2 separate regions of the Homo sapiens genome follow, and region 1 is reported to be linked to region 2. The links are microRNA targets in miRTarBase. Many come from high-throughput screens and were not tested one by one. Region 2 holds a microRNA gene; the other region holds the end of a gene's coding sequence.
What was found. Region 2 holds the annotated microRNA hsa-miR-3934-5p (UCAGGUGUGGAAACUGAGGCAG, at 1,476-1,497, opposite strand). A microRNA usually pairs through its seed, bases 2 to 8, with sites in the 3' UTR of a target mRNA and lowers its output. Matches are read on the target gene's strand: a 7mer-m8 pairs with bases 2 to 8, a 7mer-A1 pairs with bases 2 to 7 and ends in A, and an 8mer does both.

Region 1: miRTarBase lists DCTN3 as a target of hsa-miR-3934-5p. The part of its 3' UTR that is shown has no 7-base or 8-base seed match.

The regions. Positions count from the first base shown.
Region 1 is chr9:34,610,691-34,614,151 of GRCh38, reverse strand. DCTN3 (dynactin subunit 3) reads left to right here. Exons shown (of 7, transcript NM_007234.5): 6 at 51-110; 7 at 281-606. The coding sequence ends at 370. It overlaps RPP25L (ribonuclease P/MRP subunit p25 like), which reads left to right and starts at 2,055. Exons shown (of 2, transcript NM_148178.3): 1 at 2,055-2,088; 2 at 2,820-3,461. The coding sequence starts at 2,856. The coding sequence ends at 3,347. RefSeq lists enhancers at 1,254-1,303, 1,431-1,480, 2,584-3,137 and a silencer at 1,881-2,120.
Region 2 is chr6:33,696,649-33,699,648 of GRCh38, reverse strand. MIR3934 (microRNA 3934) reads right to left here and starts at 1,521; the gene lies at 1,415-1,521. It overlaps UQCC2 (ubiquinol-cytochrome c reductase complex assembly factor 2), which reads left to right. Exons shown (of 4, transcript NM_032340.4): 4 at 1,899-2,885. The coding sequence ends at 1,996. RefSeq lists an enhancer at 1,118-2,093.

The DNA.
Region 1 (3,461 bases), not on the chromosome of region 2:
AGATGTGGGCTTTGCCCAGTTCCTTTCTGTGCTACACTTTGGCCCTACAGGACCAGTGTGTGGAAATCACTGAGGAGTCCAAGGCTCTCCTGGAGGAATACAACAAGACTGTATCCTTTCTGCTCAACTAGGACCCTAATGGGTGCTGTCCCTAAGCCCTGTCCTTTTGTTCCACCTCTAGCTCTCTCTCATCCTATCCTACCCACCTATGTTTGCCTGTTCCCCACTTTCCATGAACTTCCTCACTCAGATTCCTATTCTCACCTTGACCTACAACCAGACAATGCTTCTCTCCAAGCAATTCGTGCAGTGGGATGAGCTACTTTGCCAGCTAGAGGCCGCCACGCAAGTGAAGCCAGCAGAGGAGTGATAGCTGCTCCCCATCCCAAAGTGGGCCTGGGCAGTCAGGCTCCAGGGCCCTATGCCAACCTGCCTTTGTTACAAGGCAGAGGAAGCTTTGTATTTATTGGCTTCAAGGCCCACCTCTCTGTACTCTGGGCTCTAAAGTTGGAGGTCAGGTTACCTGAGGTTTGCAATTTGCAACACCCACCCTCCCCCCAATCAGTGTTCTTATTTCAGTGACAATAAACCATAGAGATGACTGGAGGAGTGTGCTGGCTTCTTGGTCTAGGATGGAGGTGGTAGGGGGCAGAGGTGTCAGCCTGCCTAATCGTTTGACTGGGAACTAAACTCATCCTGGTCTGGCTTTCTGGCAGGTGTAGAGCTCTCAAAATGAAGGCTCTCATTTGATTATGTGAATAGGATATTCCTTTATGTATCCATTTATCCCACATTTACCAATAAGAGACCTCCAAATGTCAGATGATGGGAGTAGATAGGGCTAATCCCTGCCCTGCACGGGCTAGCAGGATAGACAGTAAAGGAAAAGGGCAGTCCTATCAGGTGGACACAGAAGAAAAAAGGGACTGAAGGGACCTGGTAAGTGATATCCAGGGACTTTCAGAGCCAAGGGAGCAGCATGTGCAAAGGCCTTTAAATTTCTCTCTTGGGAGCCTACCTGCTGCCACGAGCCGAGAAGGGCAGCCTAAGAGGTTTGGATGCAGGAAGTTTTGGTCCTGGGGAGGGGAAGTTGGGAAGTAGGGGCGCTGGGGCAAGCATGTTGAGAAACAGATTGGCACCGTAGTCCACCAAATGTTTGCTGCCCCCTTGTGGTCTCAGGGAGTGCTCTGGCTCCAGACCCTTTTTCCAACGGCCCATTGGCCGCCCCGCCTTTGCGACCTCTCCGGCACCTCAAATTCAGCGTGTCCAAACCGATCTGAAACCTGGGAGTCACCCTAGATCGGAATTTCCTACTTCTCCGTCCAAACAGTGGCCAACTCGTCACTGAACCTACTAGTATCTCCCAACTTAATCTTTTTTCCATTCCCACCGCGATTTCTCTGGTTCATTAATGTAACAAATCATTTAACAAATATTGAGCGCCGGTCATACGCCAGGCACCATACTAGGCTCCGTGGGCACCCCCGCCCCCTCAGCCCCCAGACTCCGCGGCAGGTGTCGTCAGGGGCTGTGGCCCGATTTCCCCACCACTCCCTCCTCGGCTCCCTGCACAAGATCTGGTTCGACTGGCCCCTGGAAAACCCGGAAAACCCCCGTGGTCCGCCAGCGCCCACAGGATGAGGTCGAAGCTCAGAAGTCGGTAACTAAGGCTCTCGCCCATGCAACAGCAGCCACTACAAACTGAAGCCTTTGTTCGCACCCACGGTGAAACCCACAGCTCCCCGTTTGCTCAACAGCTAACGCCAGCCCTCCCATCTTCTAAGGGCCAGATCCCCCTCCTTCAGACGCAGGACTTCCCCGACGGCCGCTCCTTTCTACCGCAGGGAACTGTCCTGCCTCCCTCCGGGGCGTAACAGCGGAGGCTGCGCTCGTGTTCCCATCCCCGCTGGGACTGGTCCGGGGCGCTCTGGCCAGCGGGTTGTTTCCGCGGCGGAGATGCCTCGGGGCCCGTCCCTCACGCCCCGCCCCTCACGCCCCGCCCCCTCGGGGCGTGCGCGGCCCCGCGGCCTTAGTGCGCTCCGGGCCCGCGCGCCATCTTGGCTCCGGATCGTGCGTGAGGCGGCTTCGGTGAGAGCCGGAACCGGGCGGGCAGAGGGGCGCTCGTAGGGTTGGGGGACGCCTGTGGCTTGGCTGCAGCGGCCGGCAAGACCCTGGAAGAGACCGTGGCTATGGAAACGGCCAAGGCTGTCTTGGAATGTCCTGAGCAGCCCTCCGAGTCGAGCCTCTGCCCCCGAGTTTCTGAGTGACCTGGGTTGATATAGATTGACCTTGGTAATCTCTGGGAGAGGGGATCCGTTCTGTTTGGGGGCAGCACTGGATAAGGGTTCTTGGCTGTTTCCCGGGGGGCCTGGGGCGAAGGGCCTTGTCCCTGTCCTTGTAGAGCCCCAAGTGAGGAGCGCTCTCTATTGGTATTAGTCTGGGGTGAGGGTTCCAGGCCCTGTTCCAAGGAGCCCAGGATAAGGGGGGCTAAGCCCCAGTCCTGGAGAGTTTAGGATGAGGGGGCCTGGCACTTTCCCAAAGAGCTCAGTGTTTGGGGAATGTGATCCTGCCTCTTGGACTCCAGGATTGGAGGTGGGGGTGTTATGGCCCTTGTAGAGGAACGGGGTGTATGGGGTACAGCCCTTTCCCAGACTGCGGCAGGCATGGACCTTGTCACGAGATGCTAAGGACAAGGGGACATGATCCTGTTTCTGGGAAGTCTGGAACGGGGAGCAGGGCCATATCCTGGATGGAGATAGGGGATGGTGGACAGTGACTTGGGGCACATTGCTTAGCACTTACCTGATGCTTCCCTGCAGTGGGCAGCGAGAGTCACAGACAAGACAGCAAGCAGGATGGAGCACTACCGGAAAGCTGGCTCTGTAGAGCTCCCAGCGCCTTCCCCAATGCCCCAGCTACCTCCTGATACCCTTGAGATGCGGGTCCGAGATGGCAGCAAAATTCGCAACCTGCTGGGGTTGGCTCTGGGTCGGTTGGAGGGCGGCAGTGCTCGGCATGTAGTGTTCTCAGGTTCTGGCAGGGCTGCAGGAAAGGCTGTCAGCTGCGCTGAGATTGTCAAGCGGCGGGTCCCAGGCCTGCACCAGCTCACCAAGCTACGTTTCCTTCAGACTGAGGACAGCTGGGTCCCAGCCTCACCTGACACAGGGCTAGACCCCCTCACAGTGCGCCGCCATGTGCCTGCAGTGTGGGTGCTGCTCAGCCGGGACCCCCTGGACCCCAATGAGTGTGGTTACCAACCCCCAGGAGCACCCCCTGGCCTGGGTTCCATGCCCAGCTCCAGCTGTGGCCCTCGTTCCCGAAGAAGGGCTCGAGACACCCGATCGTGAAGACCTGCTGAGCCAGCCTGTTCTCCGGGCCTGAATGTCTGGGGTGCTTGTGCCTTTTCTGAGAAGCGTTGTGACTGCTCAACATCCCCATCAAGGTTTGAGTCCACAAAAGTG
Region 2 (3,000 bases):
GCTATTACATGTCAACTCTAACCCTATTTTTATTCCAGTACTCTCTGGGAAACTGTGGTGAAGATATTTTGGCCAGGCAGAATCACTTTATTGGCAATTTTTTTTAATGTGTAAATTTACTCCTATATCCCTGGGTCCGTGTAATTAGCAGCATTGATGCACATTATTGTGAGGGCCCTGGACAGTTTGAGCAAAGTTTGAACTTGAAGTGAGGGCGGAAGTAAGTTCCAGAGGCCCTGCCTCTGCCCTCTGTTTTGTTCACCTCAGGGCAGCCTCTGCAAGTGGAAAACAGGCAGCAACGAAGGCTGGGAGATAGTCCCGCCATTGGTCCGCGCTGCAGCTTGTTCTGGCAGCGAGTTTAGTTCAGGAAATTTGCTGAGAATTTGTTTTCACAGCAAGCCTCATATTTTTGTTGCAAATTGTGTGGCGTAAGCTTACCAAATGTTTCCTCTGACAGGACAAGAAAAGACCTGCAGCACCTTGTAGTGAGAGGCTTTGAGGGCCTGGCAAGTCTGAAATGTGCTGTGTTCTGGGTTATGTGTGTGTCCACCCTGGGATTGGGGTCATGGAAAGCGCCTAAGGGAGGCCTCAGTGTCCACCTGGACACTGGAAACATGGACTTCTGGAAAAGCTCCAGAGCAGGGGCTTTTTTCTGTTACCTTTTTTGGTCAGAAAAGATACTCTTTTTTTCTCCAGTAGTTTTGTTAACGTGAAAATTTAGGCTGGTAAAGCAAAACAATATTATAAGAATATCTAAAATTTAACATGCACGTAAAATTAGATTTCATGGAACATTAGCCCTAGAGACTTTAGACAAATGGTTCCGTACTGGGGGGATGGTTTTGCCCCCCAGGGGACATGTGGCAATGTCTGGAGACATTTTTAGTTGTCACAACTGGTGGTGCGGGCAGCGGTGCTACTGGCATTAGTGGGTAGAGGCCAGGATGCTTTGAAACAGCCTTCAGTGATGCACAGGCCAGCCCACGACGAAAAATTATCTGGCCCAAAGTGTTGGTAGTGCCAAGGCCAAGAAACCCTGCTTTGGTTCCTGGGTGTAGGGACGTGTATGTTCTTAAACAAGAGCCCCTCCCGCCTGCATTGTGGTGGATGATGGCTGCCTTTTCATTGAGTGCGGGCTGTGTGCCAAGCGAGTTACCTCCATGCTTTTCTTTAATCCTTACAACTTTTGAGGTACGTGTGGTTTTTTTTTTCTTACTTTTTCACCTCTCCCCAAGTTGTCTGCAGATGTGTGTTTTTATCTTCATTTTACAGATGAGGAACCCGAAGCGTAGAGGGTTAAGTAATTTGCTTGAGGGGACCCAGAGTGGGAGATGATGGGCTCGGATTCAGGCCCAAGGCCATCCCCCTCCCAGTGCCTGCTCAACTCCACAGCATGTGCTGAGTCCACACACCAGGATTCAAATCCCTGCTCCACTTCCCAGCTGTGCAACCTGAGCAAGTTACTTCACTGCCTCCTGCCTCAGTTTCCACACCTGAAAACTGGGGACAGGAAGGGCTGTGTGGAGCAGGCCAAATTTTGCGATGAAGCATCTGGGTCTGTGGGTTGCACAGCGGACAGCGCAGGGCCATTTCTTTGCCCTCATACGGAGCAGGGCAACGAGCAGCACATCCCGCTTTGATGCCGAGGGTGAGGAGAGGGCAGGAGACCACTGACAGCGTGCTGGGCACAGAGTCTGGCACACAGTGCTCAGTCCCCGCAAGCGGTCACTTCTGTTACCTGTTTGATCTGCTCTTCAGGAGCTGGGTCTCCACCTTTTTCAGGAACACACTGTGTGAAAAGCAAGCCATGCTTGTGTCGGGAAAGCCCAGTGGGTCCAATCTATGTCATCAAGTTTTAGACTTCAGTCCCTCTCTCTTTTTGTCTTCCCCTTTTGCAGACACCTTGGAAGAGCTTAAGGAAATAGATAAAGGCATGTGGAAGAAACTGCAGGAGAAGTTTGCCCCCAAGGGTCCTGAGGAGGATCATAAGGCCTGAGCTCAGGCCTTACCTCGTGCACATACCTAGGTGTGGAGTCTTGTACATTGCCATCGTCAATAAAACTGCCCCAGTTTCCCCTTGACCTTACGGTTTGGGAATCTCCTCTAGCTTTCCCAGAAAGGAAGCCCTTGCTGCTCTAAAGAAAGTTTCAGCCTGAGAAGGGATGGTGATTGAGCTATCTGCTGTGACTGCTGCTCAGGGTAGGGAAATCTCCTGGGGAGAGGAAATGCAGGTTTCCCTCTGGGCCTGATGAGGGTAATGGGGCCTCGGCACAAGGTGCTTCCTGCATTGCCACGGGAGCCCCCGCCCCTCTGGCACGGGTCTGGTGTCTCCTGGCAAGATACTCAGGCTCCCTTTTGTTGTAGGAGCTCCTGGGAGGAAGCCAAAAATAGCAGTAAATACTGAAAAGGGCATCCTGTTGCAAACAGAAAGCAGTAGGGAGGTGTGAGGCCGAGAGAGGCAAAAAGCCTGCTTGGCCCTCATCCCCACTGACTCAGAGAAGGATGGACCTTAGGCCTCTATCCCTGACCTTGCAAAAACCCACATTGCCCAGTTGGCTTAAGGGACAGGGAAGCTATAGACAGGCCTTGGCCAAGCGGGGCCTCAGCTGCAGTTGGCTTCAGCACTGTGGGCAGGTTCTGTAGGTGGCCACAAGTCAGAGGCCCTGCTGGCTGAGGACACACACAGGGTCACCTCATTATTCCATGGAACCTTGGCTCTTACTGATATTGAGCATCCTTCTCTCTGGAACCGTGAGGGACAGGGCTGGGCCCACAGCGGCCCTGGTGGGTACAAAGTGGAAGTGGGTTCTTAACCTCGTCTGTGTCTAGACTCCTCAGGATGTTCTGAAATGCATAAAATAAAATCGACAGGACTGCCGTAGAAACCAGTTATGCCGAAATGCAGTTCTGGGTAGGCAAATCTCAGGGGAGGACCCTTGAGACAGGATGTCACTCAGCGTATCTCCTGAGAGCCTGAGAGGCCAGGCCAGCAGGGAGGGG